2 separate regions of the Homo sapiens genome follow, and region 1 is linked to region 2. The links come from fine-mapping of genetic effects on gene expression. A gene starts in region 2. The other region holds a variant in brackets. All regions are shown on one strand. Distances are from middle to middle.

Region 1 (2,913 bases), 28 kb before region 2:
TGCGACAGTTTTGGCACCCATGAAATGGAAAGTTCGCTCAACTTTTCAGTCAGAATTGCGTAAACTGAACCAATTGAGATGTCTATGGTATTGGCTGTTGTTTGTGCTGTTATTCATCAGTCCTGTTCAGTTAAGGCACAAACATGATTAGTATTTTCCTCAAAAATTGGATGATCTTCCACCGTAGACTTCATCTTCAATATCATTTCTTCCCATCTTAAAAGAAGCTATCCATTTGTAAACTGCTGATTTCTTTGGGGCATTGTCCTCATATACTTTTTGGAAAGCATCAATGATTTCACCATTCTTCCACTCAAGCTTCCCCATAAATTTGATGTTTGTTCTTGCTTAAATTTTAGGAGAATTCATGTTGCTTTGATTGGGGCTCTTTTCAACCTGATGTTGTATCTTTCACATGTTATAACAAGTTAGTACAAGTTTGCTTCGGTGGAAACAAATTTTGGAATTTGTGCACAGTTTTTTTTTTGTAATATGCATTTTTTAATGAATCTTTTGAAGTCTTACTACCGCCAATTTTACAGCAACAAATTTGAAAGCCTTAAGCAAATGAATAATTTTTTAGTTAAATATGTTACCAAAAATTGGTACTCTGTAAAAAATTACAATCTTTACAAAAGAGATAGTGCTATGGACTAAATTGTGTCCCCTAAAAATTCATATATTGAAGCCCTAATCCCCAATATTTGGAAAAAGGGCCTATAAGGAGGGAATTAAGAGTGGGACCCTAATATGATAGGGTTGATGCCTTATAAGAAAAGGGGGCTTGACTTGGTGGCTCACGCCTGTAATCCCAGCACTTTGGGAGGCTGAGGCAGGCAGATCACAAGGTCAAGAGATCGAGACCATCCTGCCTAATATGGTGAAACCCTATCTCTACTAAAACTACTAAAATTAGCTGGGTGTGGTGATGTACCCCTGTAATCCCAGCTAACTGGGAGGCTGAGGCAGAAGAATCACTTGAACCTGAGAGGCAGAGGTTGCAGTGAGCCGAGATCACACCACTGCACTCCAGCCTGGCAACAGAGTGAGACTCCATCTCAAAAAAAAAAAGAACAAAGGAAAAAAGAAAAGGAAGAGTCATCAGAGCTCTCTCTTGCTTTCTGCCATGTGAGGACACAGTGAGAAGACAGTCATCTACACGAGAGTCCTCACCAGGAATTGAACCAACTGGCACTTTGATCTAGG[A/G]CATTCCAGTCTCCAGAACTCTGAGAAATACCTTTCTGTTGTTCAAGCCACCCAGTCTGCAGTATTTTGTTATGATAGCGCAATCAGATTTAGATGATGTTTAGATGAGACTGAACTTTAGACTTTAGAAATCATGCTGGAGTGAGTTAATACCTTTGCAGCTGTTGGAATGGACTGAACATATTCTGCATGTAATAAGGGAATGAATGTTGGGGGTTAGGGGTGGAGTGCTATGAGCTGATTTGTTTCCCCAAAATCCATATGTTGAAGCCCTAACCCCTAATGTGACTATATTTGGAGACAGGGCCTAAAAGGAGGTAATTAAGGTTAAATAAGGTAATAAGGGCAGAGACCTAATCCAATAGGACTGGTGACTTATTAAAAGAAGAGACACCAGAGCTGTCTCTCTCTACTATGTGAGGACACAGTGAAAAGGTGGCCATCTATAAGCCAGGGCTCAGGTGATCCTGCCACCTCAGCCTGCTGGGTAGCTGGGACTACAGGTACCTGTCACCATGCCTGGCTAAATTATTATTTTGGAGACAGAGTCTCACTGTCACCCAGGCTGGAGTGCAGTGACATGGTCACAGCTTACTGCAACCTTGACCTCCCAGGCTCAAGCCATCCTCCCACCTCAGCCTCCTGAGTAGCTGGGACTACAGGTGCACACCACCACCCCTAGCTAACTTTTAATTTTTTTGCAGAGACATGGTCTCCCTATATTGCACATAATGGTCTTGAACTCCTGGGCTCAAGCAATCCTCCCACCTCAGCCTCCTGAGTAGCTGGGACTACAGGTGCACACCACCACCCCTAGCTAACTTTTAATTTTTTTGTAGAGACATGGTCTCCCTATATTGCACATAATGGTCTTGAACTCCTGGGCTCAAGCAATCCTCCCACCTTGGCCTCCCAAAGTACTGGGATTATAGGCATGAGCCACCATGCCCAGTATGAAGATGATAAAATAAAATCTACCACTTGAAAAAGGCTCTGGTACCAGAGCCTTTGACAACTTTTAAAGAACAGATAATTGCTTTTTTTTAAGGTATTACTTAGATTGTAACACTTCCCAATTTATTTTAGGATGTCAGAATAAATTGAAAATCCATTTTCTAAATAAAAGTAAAAACTGTAGTCTGGTATTAAAAAAAAATTCAAGCAAGATTTGTTTCAGGAATGCAATAATGTTTGAACATCAGGAAATCTACCAACATAATCCGTTACTATAACAATTTAAAGAGAGAAAAATATACAGTGAGATCAACAAATGCCAAAATATTTATTTGACTAAATTACTAGCCATCCGTATTAAGCCATTCTTGCATTGCTATAAAGAAATATCTGAGACTGGTAAATTTATAAGAAAACAGGTTTAATTGGCTCACAGTGCTGCAGACTGTACAGGACACATAGTGCAGGCATCTGCTTCTGGGGAGGCTTCAGGAAGCTTTGACTCATGGCGGAAGGCAAAGCAGGAGCTTGCATGTCACATAGTGAAAACAGGAGCAAGAGAGGGAGTGGGTGGGGAGGTGTTACACACTCAAACAACCAGATCTCCCAAGAACTCACGATCCCCGAGGATAGCACCAAGCCATGAGGGATCTGCCCCCATGACCCAAACATTTCCCCCCAGGCCCCACCCCCAACATGGGGGATTATAACCGCCCCCAATGACCCAAACATTTCCCCCCAGGCCCCACCTCC
Region 2 (2,913 bases):
GAGTATGTCTGTCTTCCCTGATAAAATGTAAGCTCTGTGAGGACAGAGACATTTTATCTTGTTGATCACAGTGCCTGGCATATGGTGGGCACATTTAAATATTTGTTGAATGAATTAACCGACTCTCTTTTTTTTTTTTTTTTTTTTTGAGACGGAGTCTTCCTCTGTCGCCAGGCTAGAGTGCAGTGGCGCGATCTCGGCTCACTGCCACCTCTGCCTCCCGGGTTCAAGCGCTTCCCCTGCCTCAGTCTCCCGAGTAGCTGGGATTATAGGCTTGTGCCACCATGCCCAGCTAATTTTTTGTATTTTAGTAGAGATGGGGTTTCACCATGTTGGCCAGGATGGTCTCGATCTCCTGACCTTGTGATCCGCCCGCCTCGGCCTCCCAAAGTGCTGGGATTACAGGCATGAGCCACCACGCCCGGCCTCTTTTTTTTTTTTTAACCTGGTTTGAAGTGTGAAAGAAGTTTGATTTTTAAAAAAATGTTTACCTGACACCAGGTTTCCAGTAAATTTTCAGAAATATTAGTATGATTTCTTGGAGGAGTATGGTTTCTTGGAGGCAGGCCGGGCGTGGTGGCTCACACCTATAATCCCAGCACTTTGGGAGGCCGAGGCAGGTGGATCACTTGAGGTCAGAGTTCAAGACCAGCCTGGCCAACATGGTGAAACCCTGTCTCCACTAAAAATACAAAAAGTAGCGGGGCGCGGTGGTGGGCGCCTATGGTCCCAGCTTCTCGGGAGGCTGAGGCAGGAGAATCACTTGAACCAGGAGGCAGAGACTGCAGTGAGCTGAGATCACGCCACTGCACTCCAGTCTGGGCGACAGAGCGATACTCCATCTCAAAACTAACAATACAAACAAACAAAAAAGAATGGGGATGCAGATGAGAAAAAACAAGCAATCATCGAACAAGCCACCTCAAGGTGGAGTACCATGGAACGTCAGAGGCTTCATGAAAGTCAGAAAAACTGAAGAGCACTTGGGGTTAGGAATTCAAAGGTGGGCAGCTCTTATACAGACCTTGCCCTCAACAAACCTATAGTCTAATGAGAGTCGATAAACACTTAGCAAAGTATTAATAATATCCATGGAGTGTGTAAAGCCCTAGTAAAGGAGGTATACTGGTGGTAAGAAATACCTAATTTTGTGAGGTGGGGGAATGGAAGGATGGGGGAAGGATTGGGTGGTCAGGGACGCGGTTTAAGCTGAGACTTGAAAGATGATGGAGTAGTTGACCAGGCGGTCAGAGGAACTTGGAAGCGCTATGATTCGGGATCCCACAGAGAGAGATTCAAGGGCACCTTGGCAGATATGGTTTACAGTGACCTCTGGTGTGACAGATCATTAGCATTGTGAACATGCAAAAACGATGAAGTTCTGCCCTTCATTTCACCAGAGCTGGGCTCGCCTCAAATTCCTGGTTCCTTATTCCCGCTGGCTCCCACCAACTGAAAAGCAGAGGTGGCTCGCAAGCGGCGGGGCTCTGCCCTAGATTGCCAGTAGGCGCTCGACTCACATCCAGCTCCACCCCGGGAGATGCCCCAGAAGCCCCGCCCACGTCCAGGCACGTTCTTCTGGGGCTAGTCGCAGGGGCCGCCCCGGCACCGGCGCTCACGTGACCCGAGGTGTGACGTAGGAGGAAGGAGACGCCATTAGAGGGAGGCAGAGAGGGATCGTTCTTCGCTTTTCCTCCGGTGCCTGACGTGGTGGGCTGGGGCCCTTCATTCTCGGACTTTCCCTCAGCCCTTCCAGGCCTCGCCCGAGGAGGGCGTGGGGACAGCGCCCGGGTCGGCGGGGCCGGGGCGGTGGGGGCTGAGCCGGCCGTGGCTGTGAAGGCGCTGCCGCGGCTGTCGGGAGGGCGGCGCGACACTCGGGCTCGGGCGGCCGGGAAGCGACGGGATGGCTGCGGCCGGCGGCGGCGGCGGCGGGGCGGCGGCGGCGGGCCGAGCCTACTCGTTCAAGGTGGTGCTGCTGGGGGAAGGCTGCGTGGGGAAGACGTCGCTGGTGCTGCGCTACTGCGAGAACAAGTTTAACGACAAGCACATCACCACTCTGCAGGTGCGGACCTCGGGGAGCGGGAGGGGGCGCCTCAGGGCCCCTACCCCTCCGGGGCTGGGGAAACTTTGCCGCCCTGGTCCCCTGGATGTAGGCTGGCAAATCTCAGGCCTGTCATCTCCGCCTTCGGTTTACCTTTCCGAATTCGCCCTGGGGAATCACCAGGTCGGGGCAGCCTGTAGACGCGAGGACAGGCTGTTGGGAGGGAAGTGGAAGGGCCCTGAAAAGTCCCCAGTGTTCCCCGTGGTGGCTGCGCACGTTGTGGTCTCCGTCCGTGGGCTGTTTTTTCCCATTTACTGCAGTTCCTGGGTCCCAGGTGTCAGTGTTGCAGTCTCCAAATGTTAGCTCCTTTTCTTTCTTTCAGAATTAGGAACTTAGCTGCGTATTTGATTTTGCGAATTAGGTGATTTGTAACTTCAGCGCTTACTGATGACTAAGTGTTTATGCAAGTTCCATTTTGTCCTGAGTAACAGGAATGGCAAAAGAGCCATCTCTGGAGGTTTTTTGAAATGACCGCTTGCCTAGGCGTGTTACGCAGTTTCATTGCAGCCTGCGTGGGTCTGACTTGCGGGTCACTCATATTCTGCGAGGTCGATTGACCCACGCTGAAACATCAAGTGAATACTGGCCAACAATTGGTCCCCAGACTAAAAGCCGCTGCTGTTACTCAGTTTCTTTACCTGTAAAATAAAAGGTCGGCTTTCTTCCACAGGTACATTGGAAAGGTGTTAAAATGTTATCATTGATTGAGAGTGAAGCCAGGCCTTTGAGGGAGTTGTACTCACCCCACCTCTCCCAGAGAAATCAGTTTTGATGTTATTAGGAGAAATTTATCCTACTAATTTGACTTACCA

What was found. PIP is the estimated chance that this variant, and not a neighbour inherited with it, causes the effect. A credible set is the group of variants that fine-mapping cannot tell apart.
Region 1: its variant is the best candidate, but not a certain one, in a credible set for the expression of RAB21 in nasal epithelium (TOPMed, PIP 0.73).

Annotation. Positions count from the first base shown.
Region 1 is chr12:71,725,476-71,728,388 of GRCh38, forward strand. All of the region lies in intron 2 of LOC107984530 (a long non-coding RNA gene), which reads left to right. Among named protein-coding and RNA genes, the nearest start is that of RAB21, 28 kb to the right of the region's middle. RefSeq lists an enhancer at 1-992. The variant A/G (reference allele first, on the strand shown) is at 1,207.
Region 2 is chr12:71,753,227-71,756,139 of GRCh38, forward strand. RAB21 (RAB21, member RAS oncogene family) reads left to right here and starts at 1,637. Exons shown (of 7, transcript NM_014999.4): 1 at 1,637-2,062. The coding sequence starts at 1,904. RefSeq lists enhancers at 1,409-1,698, 2,339-2,528 and a silencer at 1,679-1,958.